Linked DNA regions of Homo sapiens: region 2 is linked to region 1. The links come from fine-mapping of genetic effects on gene expression. Tissue or cell type: whole blood. Region 1 holds a variant in brackets; the other region holds the start of a gene. All regions are shown on one strand. Distances are from middle to middle.

The links. PIP is the estimated chance that this variant, and not a neighbour inherited with it, causes the effect.
Region 2: NCALD starts here. The variant in region 1 is fine-mapped to the expression of NCALD in whole blood (INTERVAL, PIP above 0.99).

What each region holds. Positions count from the first base shown.
Region 1 is chr8:102,096,060-102,103,917 of GRCh38, forward strand. It overlaps a transcript of NCALD not described here. Among named protein-coding and RNA genes, the nearest start is that of MIR5680, 25 kb to the right of the region's middle. RefSeq lists enhancers at 1,762-1,921, 1,932-1,981. The variant TA/T (reference allele first, on the strand shown) is at 3,568.
Region 2 is chr8:101,786,995-101,794,852 of GRCh38, forward strand. NCALD (neurocalcin delta) reads right to left here and starts at 3,975. Exons shown (of 4, transcript NM_032041.3): 1 at 3,868-3,975. RefSeq lists enhancers at 38-584, 585-1,131.

The sequences.
Region 1 (7,858 bases):
GGTCACATGAGCAGGCACTAAAGGGCAGAAAACTGATCCAAAGATCCAAAAGGTAAGTTCAAAGAAGAATCTTATAGGGTAAATACTGGTCCAAGGGATGAGGCTAAAACAAGGCCAGCAGGCTGAAGAGCAAAGATCAGTTTTCAAGAGCACTCACACTGGCTTCTCACAACCACAGGGTTGGTTTCTTCTAAGGCCTCTCTCTTGACTGTAGGTGGCCTTCCTCTCCCTGTGTCTTCACGTTGTCTCCCCTGTGTGTATCTGTGTCCTAATCTCCTCTTCCGATAAGGACACCAGTATTGGATCAGGGCCCACCAGGATTGAGGCAGGAAAATAGGGTCTGGAGGCAGGGAACCTAAGACCATTTCATGCTGACTTCCTAGAACTGAATTGAAAGGAAAATCCTAACTTTCCAGCCTAAGTAACAAAAGGACCAGAGACTACTCCCTTTGCAAACCCCCACCTTTTCTGCACAGCAGATGGGAAATTGAAAGTACCTCTGATTGGTTGATTTTTGCAACCAATCAGACATTTGCATAGGAGTGTGACCTTTGGAACTTCACTTCAGCCTCTGGTTGATTGCTTTCTGCAACCAATTAGACTGACGGCGGGCCACCACTTCATTTACATGAGGTGAGCACCAAGTGGTCAATGGGAAACCCCTAGAGGGTATTTGGACTCAGGAAGATTCTGTATCTGGGCTCTTGAGCCCCTGTGCTGGGGCCCACTCCCACCCTGTAGAGTGTGCTTTTGTTTTCAATAAATCTCTGCTTTTGTCGCTTCATTCTTTCCCTGCTTTGTGCATTTTGTCCAATTATTTGTTCAAAATGCCAAGAACCTGGACACCCTCCACTGGTAACAAGATGACCTCATTTTACCGTAATTACCTCTTTAAAGACCCTATCTTCAAATATAGTCACATTCTGAGGTACTGGGGGCCTAAGACTTCAACACAAGAATTTTAAGGGGAAAGATACTAAACATAGTGGATGACTTCTGGGAAATACAATTACAGCCCTGAAAACATGAGCATCACCAGAAGTCATGTATGTTAGAGGTTTAAGAAGACCACCAGTTCCCAGATAGCTTACCTACATTTCATAGTATTCGTTTACCTAAGTCCCACAGCCTAAACATTTTTAAAAAGTGAGACTAACAGTTAGGAACCACAGAGGAACTAGCACAGGAGAAAAAAAAATAGTGAAAGACAAAGAATCAGTTCATTCATGGCATCTAACATTCACACTGCACTTGATAGTCTGTGAGCATTTTCCACCTATTATTTCATGCATCTGCACAACAAGCCTGTGAGCCAGGGTCCTTACTCACAACCAAAGTCCCCCACACCCAGTTCCAACCACGCGGGTGCTTAAGTGCATGGTGACCATATTATTACTTGCTTTTGGCTTTGTGCTGTGTGGCTTGCTCTGTGGCTCATCATAAGATATTTATTCCAGATCCCTTCCCGGTGAGACATGTAGATGCTGTTTCATCAGAAGTTGCGTGGGTCATGAAGCCCAAGGCCAGCAGTTCTGGATGCCTCCATGAAGCTGGATATTGCTTACTTGTTAGCATCCCTCTCTGGCAATCATCAATAACCTCTTTTCAAAAGTACCTCCTTATACAAGACTCTTATCAACTGATTTCATCATTTTTAGCACTGAAACCTTGGTCTTCCTGCTCTCTGCTCTGACAGCATCTCTCTGATAACCTGAGAAATCAGAGTTTCACCCCTGAAACTAAACAGGCCATTATTTCCTAATTTTAAATGATGACATGACAAGCCTTCACCCTATCTGTTTCTTATTTCCTTGAACTCTCCCACCCTCACCAGCAGCCAACACAAATCACAACGCAATGCAAAGGCCAGGCCACAGAACACGCTGTGAATCGACAGTTTCAGAAGACGTCATTCACACAATGTGCAAGGCACTTCCTGCACAGCCATCTCTGTGCCCCTGCAAAGGGCATGTGGCATGAGGCAGTAAAATAAGTATAGTCTGTGTTTGGGTATGAAAGGTGGTGGGTGGGGCGTGAATACATCCAAGATATGCTTTAGGACTAAGTCAAAAGAGAACTGAGAGTGAGAAAGAAGATTGGGATGACCTCCAGTTGCCCATCCAGATCCCTGGAGACTGATCTTCATGTGCTAAATTAACTATGTCCCCTTACCTCTGGCTTCTAGATGGGCTGGGGTAATGGGAAGGACTGCAGAGGGTGGAGGGTGGGATGAGAGAGCAATTGGGGTATTTATCCTCCCCATTTCCTCCTCACCAGGCCCCAGTTTGACAATGGTGCATTCCTCTAACCCCAGGCTCAGCTCCTGCCAGTCTTCCCTCTCCAGCTAATCCTTTCTCAAGGAACTCTTCCTCCCCGGCCTCTTCTGGCCTGAGGATTCTAACAGCTTCCCAAGTTGCTGGCCCTGGGGGGCTGCATCATCCCTCACTGGTTTCCCTTAACCTTGCTGACCCCATAGAAATAATTCTTCAATTAAACTCTCTTAAATCACTCCTTATACATTCATTTAATCAGCAACCATAATTGAGCAACTTTGGTAGGCCTCGTGTCATTCACCCTAAAAGAAACAAGGATGAATAAAACTGGTCTTTCCCCTAAGAGAGTTTTGAAGCATCTTTTTTCTTCTTCAGACATCAGACCCTGCCTTCCCTATGAGGAGGGAGGGCACCAGACCCTGCCCTCCCAAACACTTGGAATTTAACCAGCCACTCCTCAGTTTCTTGTACCATGATGGCCACATGAACTAGGTTTGGCCACTTATGATACTCATCCCCTGCCACAGTGATTGGCTCAGGGATGAGCATGTAACCCAACACTGACTTCATCTCTCACTGGTAATTTTGTCAGAGCTACTATAGAAGTTTTTTTCCTTTTTCTAAGCTTGTTAATTGTGAGGGTGTTGTGAACCTGGAGCTGTTGATGGCCATGTTGGCTTCCCTATTGGAGAGAACCAACTGAGAATTCGGTCAACACAGATGAAAGCAGAGATGGGAGGTAGAAAGTGTGAGAAAGACAGGTTCCTAACATTCTTTGTATACCTTGATCCAAATGGATCTGAATTCCATCTCTGGAATGTTCAGTTATCCAAGCTATTTTGTCTAAGCAATTTGAGTTAGATATCTGTCTCCTGCAAACAAAACAGTCCTGAGTAGTAAAAATGGCCTCCTTTACTAATCCATGCTACACCAATAGTCCAAGGCACCAAAGACTTGTCAAGGGAAAGAATTCTTTCACACAGTCACTAACAGTATCTTTAGAGAATGGGGAGCAGGTGGAAAAGAACATTCCAAAGTGCAACACACTTAGATGAGACAAGAATGTTAGATCTTAACTTTAGGGATTTCCCCTACATGTCTTGAAATTTAAATGTATTCATTTTAACATAAGTAAACAGGGAGAGCCAAGTCCTTATCAAGAGACAATATGCCCATATCAAGATATACAATTGATCCTTAAATCTTGACATCAAGATTTTGTTCCCACAATAATGAAGTTGAATTGCCATGTGCTTCTGTCAGATAATGACATTTAGGTTGATGTTGTCATTAA[TA/T]AAAAAAAAAAAAAATCAGAAATAGCAATCTCTCAGCTGGGCACCGTGGCTCACGCCTATAATCCCAGGATTTTCAGAGGCCAAGGTGGGTGGATTGCCTGAGGTCAGGAGTTTGAGACCAGCCTGGCCAACATGGTGAAACCCCATCTCTACTAAAATTACCCAAAAAAACCCTATCTCTACTAAAATTACCAAAAAAATTACCAAAGCAGTGCACACTTGTAATCCCAGCTACTCAGGAGGCTGAGACAGGAGAATCACTTGAACCCGGGAGACAGAGGTTGCAGTGAGCTGAGATTGCATCACTGCACTCCAGCCTGGACAACAGAGTAAGACAGAGCAAGACTCTGTCTCAAAAAAAAAAAAAAGAAGAAGAAGAAGAAAAAGAAATAGCAGTCTCTGAAAACTAAGAGCAAAAACTTTGTTTTGTCCTTTCCATTTAATACTCACTGAAAAAAAAATCACACTTTTCCTAGCTTAATGCAACATGAAAATTCAGAAATAAAACCTAAATTATTTTCATATTCCTCATTTATCAACACTTACAACAAAAGGCCTCTTCAGCATACATAGCACACAAACCAAGATGAACAAGTTTTGTTCAGATCAAAACAATCAAATATATTGCAAATTTCTTCCTCAAATAGGAGCTTTTCATAACTAAACTCAAGGAGGAATAAATCACAAAATGTTATATCCAGATTCTTTTATTAATGTGACATTAAATCTTGAAAATCCCACAGCAACTACTTTTAACAATTTTAAAGAATCCAAGTCATTTTCATGAGATGTCTTTTTCAATGTTTTTCAATGCTTCCTCAAAAGTTAATTATTTAAGCTGAAGTCCTGGAATGTTTAGGCTTTGGGGCACCACTGAGAGAAACAAAAGCTGGAGTTACAAGAGCAGAGCTGGGAAATTTTTGAGAAAATCGTCAAGAAACATAAATGCTTGAGGGACTCAGAGAGTTTACACACATGTTCACGGCAGCATTATTCACATTAGCCAATAGGTGGAAGGAACCCAAACGTTCACCAACAGATGAGTGGATAAACAAAACGAGGTATATACATACAGTGAGACATTATTCAACCTTAAAGAGAAAGGAAATTCTGACACATGCTACAACATGGGTGAACCTTGAGGACATTATGGTAAGTGAAATAAGCCAGTCATAGAAGGACAAATATTGTATGATTTCATTTATATGAGGTGCCTAGAGTAGTCAAATTCATAGAGCAGAACGGTGGTCGTCAGGGGCTGTGGGGAGGAGGAAGTGGGGAGTTGTTGTTTGATGGTAAGTTACAGAGTTTGAGTTGGGGAAGATGAAGAAGTTCTGGAGATGGATGGTGGTGATGGTTGCACAATAATGTGAATGTACTTAATGCCACTGAACTGTACATTTAAAAATGGTTAAAATGGTAAAGTTTATGTTTTGCATATTTTATACCACGACCAGCAACAAAAACCCTCAAAAATGCTTAAAGGAGCAGGCAGACATATGGGCACGTGAAGCCAGTCAGGATGTGTGACAGACAGAAGGGTGAGGACCAGTGTGCACGCGTCCTCTCTAAAGAGAACACGCATCACTCAGCTCTCCAATTGCTGTCAGGCAGGAACTGGACCCAGTATTATATGTGGATATTATGATTTTTCAGGAGAAGCCTGAAATCCGCATTTTTATAAAATATCCTCTTTTTTTTAAGTTAGCAACAAATTTTAAAAAGTTTTTAAAACACTGCAAGTCAAATAAAGGGTGTCTGCAGGCCTCTAGTGGACTACCTGGTTTAGTGGTGAATTAGCAGCCCTCTATAAACGAAGGCTGCATTGGATCCAGGGCAGAAAGCCGAGTCCTAACAGTATTAGCTTGTGCAGGCAATTATTTCCAGATTGTGTTGCTGTATGCATTCACAAAGGAAGGCCTAGGAATATATCGCAACCATAACCTTATTCTCGGAAGCTTTGAACAAGTGGAAATGGGGTGTTTTATGTGTGTGTTTTGTTTTCCTTTTGTGTGGCTAAAATGAGAGCCTTTGGAATTCTTGTATGTATAAGAACAGGCTGTTCATTTATTGACCAGTGTAATAGATTCCCACATTAGTCTCAGACTAGAAATGAATGCCCCTTTGAAGAAAGGGTAGAATAATAAAGATGTGAACAGCATTTATCCAAATTACATGAAGGGCAACTTAGCAGTATTAACACCTCTCACTCTTACAAATGGGGCTGTGTGGGAGCCTGAATTTTAAAACAAAATCAATGTTTTAATTTTCTATCTTATGGAGTTGAAGCTGGGGGTGGGAGAATGACTTCTAAATAATAAAGCATCTTATAACAAACTAACATGAGTTGTAACTAAGTAAATGCAACTCTGAAACAGAACTCATAGCTCTTAAAACTCATCCTCTATTCTTCAAAATAATCAATTTTATTTGTAGTGTTTTTCTTATTATTGCTATACTGTAAATGAAGCACATAATGTCTTTTGAGTAAGAATGTGATGTAATTCATTGATTGCTAGGCAATAATATTCAATTCATTTTAACAAATGTATATTGAGCACCTTTTCAATGCTCAGAATTGTGATGGGCACAGCAGGTAATACAAAAAAAAATTGTGTCCATCCTCCTGTCACAATTAACGCTCCACCCAACAACACAGCTCACATTTCAAATACGGCAACGAGGAAAGCAAACGTGAAGCAATTAGCGCAGAGACGGAGGCAGAAACTACCCTGCAGCTCCCCTTGAGTTCCACAGGGAGGAAACATTTTGTGCCCTAATACCCCTAACCCTTGCTGGGGGTCCCCTTGTTATGGCACATGCGTCAGAGCTGGCAGGGACACCAGAGGACATGGAGCAGTCTTCCGCCTTCAGATTTGGTATTTATTGCACAGATGAGGTATCTGAGGCTCAGTTAAGGGATTTTTCCAAAGGCACCTAGCAAGTGGAAAAAGGGAGCAGAACCCGGAGCCCAGCTTCCGAGGCATGACCCCCCAGCCCCGCTCCACTGCCCATTGCCTCAGCAGCAGCGAGCGTTCTTCCTCCACTGCCGAAGCACTTCCTGAGCTCCTCCTTCTGCACACCAGGCTCTGCCCAACCCCAGCGGATGTCTCGGATGCAGTTCGTTGCATTTATGAAAGTTTAATGGCAAGATCAAGGGAGAGGAGAGAGAGAGGGGTGGGTGAGCTCTCGGTTTCCAGCTGGGCCTCCCAATTCTTGTGCCCCTCAGGGGTCACTACAGGTCCAAGGCCTGGTCCTCAGCTCTGCACATGCAGGAATTTGATTTTATCAGTTCACTCGGGAGTGATGAGACCCTAGGGGACCAACTCATGCCAACTAAATGCTCAAGACGCTGATTGATAAACCAGAAGGCCACTTTACTTGAGTATCCTGGGAAACATATTGTCGGGTGGATCCAGATATGCTTCTCTTGGGTTTTGAAGTCCTTTTGGGGAAACCAGATGAGTAAGGGGAGACTCTGTGGAAAATACAGACTCAGAGGAAAGGAACCTTGGTGGACTCAGCTCCACGCCAACCTCCCAGCTGTCCCCGTGCCTTCCCTCCCCTCTACTGTACTTGCCAACGATTGCCACCTCTCTTCTCCCTAAACACACTCTACCCTTTCTCTGCCTGTTCAAATCCTATTAATAAGTTAACACCTAGTGAGTGTTTGCTTACTACAGGATGGGCACAGTTCTAATAGTTTTATATAATTTCCCTAACACCCAATTCTCTCTTAAAAGAGAGAATAATGACAGTCCATACCGCACAGTGTTAGGAAAATTATATAAAACTATTAGAGATAAAGGCTCAGGAGGGTTAAGTAACTTGCCCATAGTGACGCAGCTAGCAAGACACCACCAGGATTCAAACCCAGGCAGTCAGACCCTAGAGCCCATGTTGGTTGTTTTTGTTTTCTTTTCTTCTCTTTTCTTTCTTTTTTTTGAGACATGGTCTTACTATGCCACTCAGCCTGGAGGGTGGTGGTGCAGTCACAGCTCACTGCAGCCTTGACCTCATGGGCTCAAGCAATCCTACTGCCTCAGCCTCTAGAGTAGCTGGGAGGCACTCTGACCCCCTCAATGCCTATCTCACTGTTGTTTGCAATTGAAAAACCTCAAAACAGCATGCGAAGAAATAACAATTGTTAAATATGAAAGTCAACATTACATGAAAATCAACAGAAGAGAAACATTTTGGCATATGAGGGGACTTTTTTAATCCCTTAAATACAAGTTTTTAAATAAGTGAGAAGGCAACTGCCTGAAAAATTTGATAGGCAAAATAAGC
Region 2 (7,858 bases), 310 kb before region 1:
TTTCAATATTTATCATATAATTTTTATATCAAAATCTTAGTGAACATTAACTTTTATGGTATCACTTCTGAAAACAATAAAAAATACTACATTTTGGAATGCTATTTCTAGTTAGATTTCCATCATGAAGCACCAGTTAAATAAATGTGGATTTTATGAAAAATAATGGCACATTCCTTTTTGAAAAGTTTCAAACACCTGGCTTGAGAAGCAAACAGTACAGCCTGGAGTCAGAGATTTTAAACTTTTTCCAAGTTTCTTTATCAAGTTGCTAGAGACTCAAAGCTCCCAAGGCAAGTGTTCTTTTCTAATCCAAAGAATAAGAAACGTTTGAGAACATCTCTTTCGTAATTCCTTTGAGAACACACGAAGACAAATTGCTAAGCTTCCATTTCAAATGCGAGGGATTTGGATTGAATTTAAACAACAGCTTGTGCAAAATGTCATAGCTCCCATTCTCTTACGCGGAGACAGTGGGTGTTGATGTCATAGAAAGGATGACTTTGGACATTCTGAATATAGGGCTGTGACGGCAGCTGACCAACTGCAAAGTTACGCTGTTGGTTTGGAGAGGAATATCAGGCACTATTTTCTGCACATTTAAAGAAACATGTTGAATGAGACAACTACTTACATAAGTCACACTAAACAATACTATTAATACCCCCTGTATTGGTCTTAAATATCCAATAAGCCAAATAAGGTTCTGCATTCAGATACTTGGGAAGTGTCTCCACTTCCAGCTTAATTTCAAACATGCCTCATCCTAGAGACCTCTGTCAGATAAACCTTTAGGGCTCTCTCTTGAGTATCTGGAATTAACATGACAATTGATCAATTCACACGTGTATGTGCTTTACATTAAGCTGGAAAGCCACATGCATTCTTTAATGCTTGCTTCAAATGCTATGAGCACATGAACTACCTTCTGTGGCCCATGGTTTTAACTCGCATAACTTGTACTAACACTATGAGTTTTCCTCTTAACCCCTGTCTAACCAGGTAAGGGTTTCCCAATCCAGGGGACATAAGACTGTTGTTAATGGATCTCAAGGAGGAAAATAAAAGAAAGTTACAATTTGGTAGCTATGTGAACATATTATTCCTTTTCATGCAGAATTTAGAGAACATTGCAAAATTCACACACTCGAAGAATAAAATCCGATGCGGTGGAACCGAATGTGGAAATGGGGTGATGGGTTTTGTCCAGTGCAGTTCTATCACCTTTTGGCATCACTAACGTACATATCAATTGACTCAGGGGTGGATAAAATTCAAGAGGGCCTGGGGAACTTGGTTGGGAAAAATATTATATCTTTAGTTTCACTAACCTCAAACTGAAATTTAGTATTTCCTTCAATTAAAATGTAGGCCACAAGCCACAGCACCTGTGATATTGTTGCCAAGAGAAATCACAGATATTTTCACCTCATTTTACAGTTGTTGTAGATATCCTGAAATATCTTTTATGCTCACCATTACTTCAAAATTATGGTAGTTATGGTAGTTATTATAACTGCTGTTAGTTTGTATTATGTAATAATGTGTTACTAACAAAGCATGTATCACAATTTTGTAAAATTTAGTTAACGTTTTTCAATGAATGAAAGTGGTTTGATTTGTAAACCTGCATACTTTATTTTATGCATGTAAAAACATAATTCTGAGAAAAGTACATAGGCTTCACCAGGCTGCCAAAGAGGTCCACAGCACCAAACGGGTTAAGAATGTCCGAAACTATACACAAAATATTTAATAATGCAACAGCCAGGTTTCTAGAGTACCTCGTTCCTTGCCAGCATCTTTTGAAGCTGCAACAAACATGACCTTGAAATCAACATAGTCTCAATGCTGTAAAATGATTCTGATGACAGTCTTTTTTTCTCTTATTTTCCCATAGGAAAAGACCTGTAGATTCTAGAGCATCTCTGCTTTCACAGCATAGGTTGTTTTCTTTTAGTGATAAACTTCATCATTGAGATTTTGCCATCAACGCTGAATTATTCTCTTGTATTTCATACCGCTGAAATATAGTCTATTTTGAAAGAGCATTGAATACAATTATTATAAGACTTTAATTTAAAATGTCATAGAGACAGCACCAAGAAAATCTCTGCTACCTGGAAAAACTATAATGATAATTCCACATTTTGAGTAAAAGAAGTAAATGTCAAAGTGTACCTCATCAAAGATAGTGCTGTTAAATGACGGTGCTACTGGTCTTATCTGTGCTCAACTGAAATGTTACATATAAATTATCATTTTTCTAGGGGTGTTAAGAATATGGCCTCTGGGTTATTATAATTTTGAGATCAATTAAGTGATGAGATTATGTCTCAGTAGATGTGCCTGGAATGAAAGCACATTAGACTTTTGGAAAATCCTCCACGGAGACCCTGACCAAAAACAGACATGTCAAATGCCAGCAAGTTAAATGAATATTCACTCATTGAAAGCTACTGAGAAATTATTGATATACCCACAGTTATTCACTTATTACTGTAGCTAAATACTGTTCAAAATTTTTCACCTCCAAGAGTAAAATAAATGCTATTAGAATTCTGAAACTAATAAAGAACATAAAAATTAAAACAATATATTCTTGCACTAAATTACGATATAATTCACACACTGTGAATATATGGTATTCATATATACAGTTAAACCAGTTTCTTCTACTAATTAAAATACTAGCTGTATTACATGTAGTGCTCTAAAATTTGCCCCTTTTTCTGTTAAACTTGTAAGATTTAGACACCTGGTTATAAATCTAGACTTTGGCTAACTTCAGTACTACAGGTATTCTTTAAATTAGAAGCTCCAAAACAATTCAACCTGTATGTCATGAAAGAAAATCTGAAATTACTAAACTTGGGAAGGAAAGGAACTACAATACAAAGAAAACAATTTGTAGTAAATAGTATTATAGGAATAAAGAGATAAAAATTCTTATTAATCACAGTTATCAAATTATTCATTTAAGATCCAGAGCAAATTGTGAGTGACTACTTCTATCTGTGTTTGAGTTAAAGTAGAACTTGTGTCAATGATACTTTTCATTTTAGGGCTATTGTTTTTTTCTTTAGGTAATTATGACGATTTTTAAAAATAACAACAGCTTACATGACTCCTTAGTAAAGACCACCTCATGCCATTCTCTTCACAGCTGAATTTTCAGGGGAGGATACTGGAAATATGCACTTTGCTCTAACAACCAAAAAGCAATTGCATGCACACATGTAAAAGGTTCCACCCCAACTTCCTTGGCATATTCCCGATTATTTCTCTCTAAACAGGAAACTGTTGACAATTTTTCCTGGTACTTTCAGAATACCAAAGGTTTTACTTACAAGCAAAATCCCAACTTTTGTTTCAGTTATAATGTTATTTCCCGTGGTTCCTATTGTTGCTAAATATGAATGCTGCAAACAAGATAGAAACCAAATTCCAAACTATTTTAGGCTGATTCAGAATTGAGTAGCAATTGTAAAAAGAAAAGTTAGAAACACATTGCAAGGCTATGCTGGAGTTTTTAAACCCAAAACAATACTGAAGGGAGGATTCCTGGAATTCAAGAGAGAATATTTGGCTCAAGCTGCAAAATCCGTATGTCTAAATAATGTTATGTTAGCAAGTGTTGAGCAAGCAAGACGATTATATTTTAACCTACTTCACAAAACATTAATCCAAATTTAACCAAATTCCAGAGAACCTGCCTGAAATTCACAACTAGAAGCTGCTTCACATTTTCCCCTTGGTACAACAATAATTGCTCATGAATACAAACTTGTAGGAGGTAAGAGAGAGGGGAAAACCACAATGAGCTATAAAAACATCTAACTATTGTATATAAAGCAAACTAATTACCTCACTCAGAAGAAGTGCAAGATTTAACAGTCCATGCTCTGCAGCCCCTGGAAACAGCAGTAGCAGCAGCAGCAAGGTCCAGCATCCACCAGATTCTCACAAGCCTTTGACTGTGTGGACTCAGCCACAGACTCTGCCTCTAGCTGACGTCAAAGTCCCTGTCACATGGCCAGATGAAAGCCAAGAGATCATTGGTTGTCGTAGCAACCACAGACCGGCTCTGAAATTATTTCAATAGGTCATCTGTCACTGTGGTGTGTGTGTGTGAGAGAGAGAGTATGTGTGTACGCACACACCATAGAACCATCACGGACAGCTCCTTGACAACCTCAACCCCCGAAGTTGTGACTCCAGAATGCCTACAACTTTCCTCTTTAAGGCTTTGGTGTCTTTTCTCTACAGTTACTTGCAGGAAAATATATGCCACCCTGAAGTTCTCATTTGTTTCACTACCATCAGCATGAAGCATGTCTCTCTCTCTCTCTTTCTCTATAACAAAAGGAAAGAAACTGAAAAATTCTGGAGTAGTTTTCTTAGCCAATTAAACTTATTTGCAAGCAAATATATAAAAACAGAAGCTCAGGGGGAGGGGTTGGAAGAAAATGTATTTTAAAAACTATATCAGAGTCTACATGGATATACTGAGACCATGCTTGTGATGGAAAGAAAAATAAAAAACAGTGGCTTGGGTTCATGACAGTGGCTTATGACTCAGAGACAGGTAAGACAGTCTAATGATCCTGACACCAAGTAGGATGTAGACATCAGATAACATAAATTCAGGATTCCTGTACTGTAAAATGTCTAGGTAAAAATGAGGACCGAAGGAGTTTCAAAACAGTGTTACTTTAAAATAACCATGTGAGTAAGCTGAAAACTGTGCTTTGGGGCCATACGGGTGCCAAATGCTCCCCTCTTGAGTCCTCTCATCCACACCCCTTTGCTGAGACTCAACATTGAGTAAACAGGGCCAGTGTTCCACAAACACAAAGTGTAATGAAAGCCCAGAGCCATAGAATGAAAGGGTTATCTCACATGTTTTCTAACATCAGCTTTATTTCCTTTACGACGACCCTAGCTTACTTTTAACTCTGCACACGTGCCTATTTCCCAGTTAATTCTCTTTCTTAATTAATGGGAAGCCGATTAAACAAAATCAATGAAACTCACAAGAAGGTACTCTGAAAAAGACATTCAGAAAATGTATGCCCAAACAAAGGACAAGGAGTTAAAAGGCAGGGGAGAAGAGACTGCCCTCAAAACCCTAAGGACCTTTATATGCTAGGCTTATAACGACTTCTATTCTGTTTCTTAAAATAAATAAATAAATAAAAAAGAGTAGCTCTGGGGTGCTACAAAATATAAATGGAACCTAAGTCAGCCAGGCAGATTACATTTGTGTCACTGTAAAAGAATGAAATTTCTTTAGTAGAATCAGAAATTGCTTCTTTAATAATAAGACTAATGTTCAAATCACTTGGTCATAGAATCGTCCTACTCCATCCTCCTTTTCATCTTCCTTTATTTCTGTCCCAGCCCCAATTGGGAGAAAAGATAGATTTTTATTTAAAAAGTTATTTTCCTGATGCGATTAGCTGTGGCACTGCAAAACCGAAATCAAACTATAAGGAACTTTCCTCCTTTAATTTCAGATTAATGACAGCTGGGAATTTACCTGTTTGAACAAGGACAATGGAATCCAATGTCTACCTAAAGCCTCACTAGGGGCAGATTTCACCAACAGCCACAATTCATAAACTGACAATTTGTTCCAATTATTGTTCTGCTTTTATGTTCAGAAATGCACATCATACAAATGAGGGAACCGGAAGAGGCAGAGAAACATACCCTTCTAGCTTTCCCTGGACCCACGTTCTCTGAGCTGCTTAATTTACCATCTCTCTGGCTCTAATCCATAGCTGCCTAATTAATTCTTCCTCCTCTTTATGCAGCTTTAGCATTTAAGAGAGAAAAACTGCAGTGCCACATTCTGCTAATAGGTGATGTCTTCTGAAATAAGAAGTTCTCAGTTCTAAAAAAAAAAAAAAATGCCTAAAATTCAGGACTTTAAATGGATTAATTTGAAAATTAGCAAAAAACCAACACTTTTACTTTGACTGGTTTAGCATTTTTAAGACTAAGTATACTTTATACTGCCTTGGGCAGTATTAAAATATTCAGTGAACTATTAAAATATTCAGTGAACTGGCTGGGCATGGTGGCTCACGCCTGTAATACCAGCACTTTGGGAGGCTGAGGCCGGTGGATCACAAGGTCAGGAGATCAAGACCATCCTGGCTAACACGGTGAAACCCCGTCTCTATTAAAAATACAAAAAATTAGCCAGGCATGGTGGCACATGCCTGTATTCCCAGCTACTCAGGAGGCTGAGGCAGGAGGATCGCTTGAACCTGGGAGGTGGAGGTTGCAGTGAGCCAAGATCATGCCACTGCACTCCAGCCTGGGTGACAGAGTGAGACTCCGTCTCAAAAAAAAAAAAAAAAAATGCAGTGAACTGACCTTCAAAATGAAAAGTGGGTGCATGTAGCCCTTTTTTTCTACAACATGCTTCAACCAGAAACTGAAGAGAGAGATTAAGTAATTTGCCTACCTACTCATTTTCCTTTGCAAACTACCTAGGTTTAGAATTTCCTCTTAGAGTGAAGGAAGCTACCAGTCTTCTGTGAGGTTGAAGGCATGATGGTGATCTCTTTAGAGCTCAGATTCCTACCAATTTGGTTAATTAACCCAAATGTAGTTGAAAGTATCACAGGAAATACACATGAGAGCTTTCTCCAATCACAGCCCACTACACTGAAGAGAATATGTGCCATTTTATTTTCTAATTGACAAGTCATTTTTTAAGGTGAAAATGATTCACCAAATTTAAAAATATCCATTCAAAAATAGTTCTGCATCTTATTTTTCACTCTTTGTAAAAATGTCAAGGCTGCCTATTATTAGTTTGACCACTTTGCCAGAAATAACTGGTAAATGCCACTAAACAAGCAGTCTGACCTGGGCTCACACACCTGAACTAACAGGTGGTTTGGGTCATGCAATTCTAACCAGTCTTTTGTCGATGTTTGTACATAGGGATGTTGCTGTCTCCTCTGTCTTAACGTTAATGGGCAGGCCTGGACCTACTGTTTAGAGCTACTGGGTTCAAATTTCATCTTTTTATGGCTGGACCTTGAGCAAGCTACTTAAGTCCTCTGAGCTGCAGTACCTACATCTTAAGGTTGTTTGGAGGATAATAAAGTTAATATATTATAAAATTCTGACACCTTGCCACAGGGTAGATGGCTCAAGTGTGTATGTCATTTCTTCTTTATCTGTCTGACTCTGATAAGCCTACAAAGATCTTCAGGGAAAGGATGAAATCTTATTCATCTGTACAACACTACAGTTAGCACACAACCCAGAACACAGTGAATCCTCAATCCATGTTGAATGACTCAACTATTGGGAAATAAATGTTGAAGAGTAGAAAGAAATGGTTCCTTTTTCTTCCTACTAATAGGGAAGAGAGCCTCTCTCCAACCCCCAACCTCAAAAAAAGGAAAAGAAGAAAAAAGAAAGAACAAAAATGTTGAGTTATCATAAACTTTTCTAAAACTGGATGGCTCCAAGTAAATCAAACTTAACCCTACTCATACATAAATAAATAAATATTTGTTATGAGTACATGTAAGTTATATGTGGATGTATTTAACGGTTCTTGCTGTTGATGTTGGAAAATTTTTACATTAACTGACATCGAGTGCTTACTACATGTGGAACATTTTTCTAAGTACTATACATTTATTAAATCATTTACTATAATAATCCTATGAGGCAGGCACTATTCCATATTTCACAATTGAAGAAACTGAAGAGAGAGATGAAGTAATTTGCCTACCTACTGCATAGCAGAGCCAGGATTTATACTCAGGAAGCTTAGCTCTGTAAAATTTTGGAAATAATTTACATTTGATATGCTTTTAGAAAA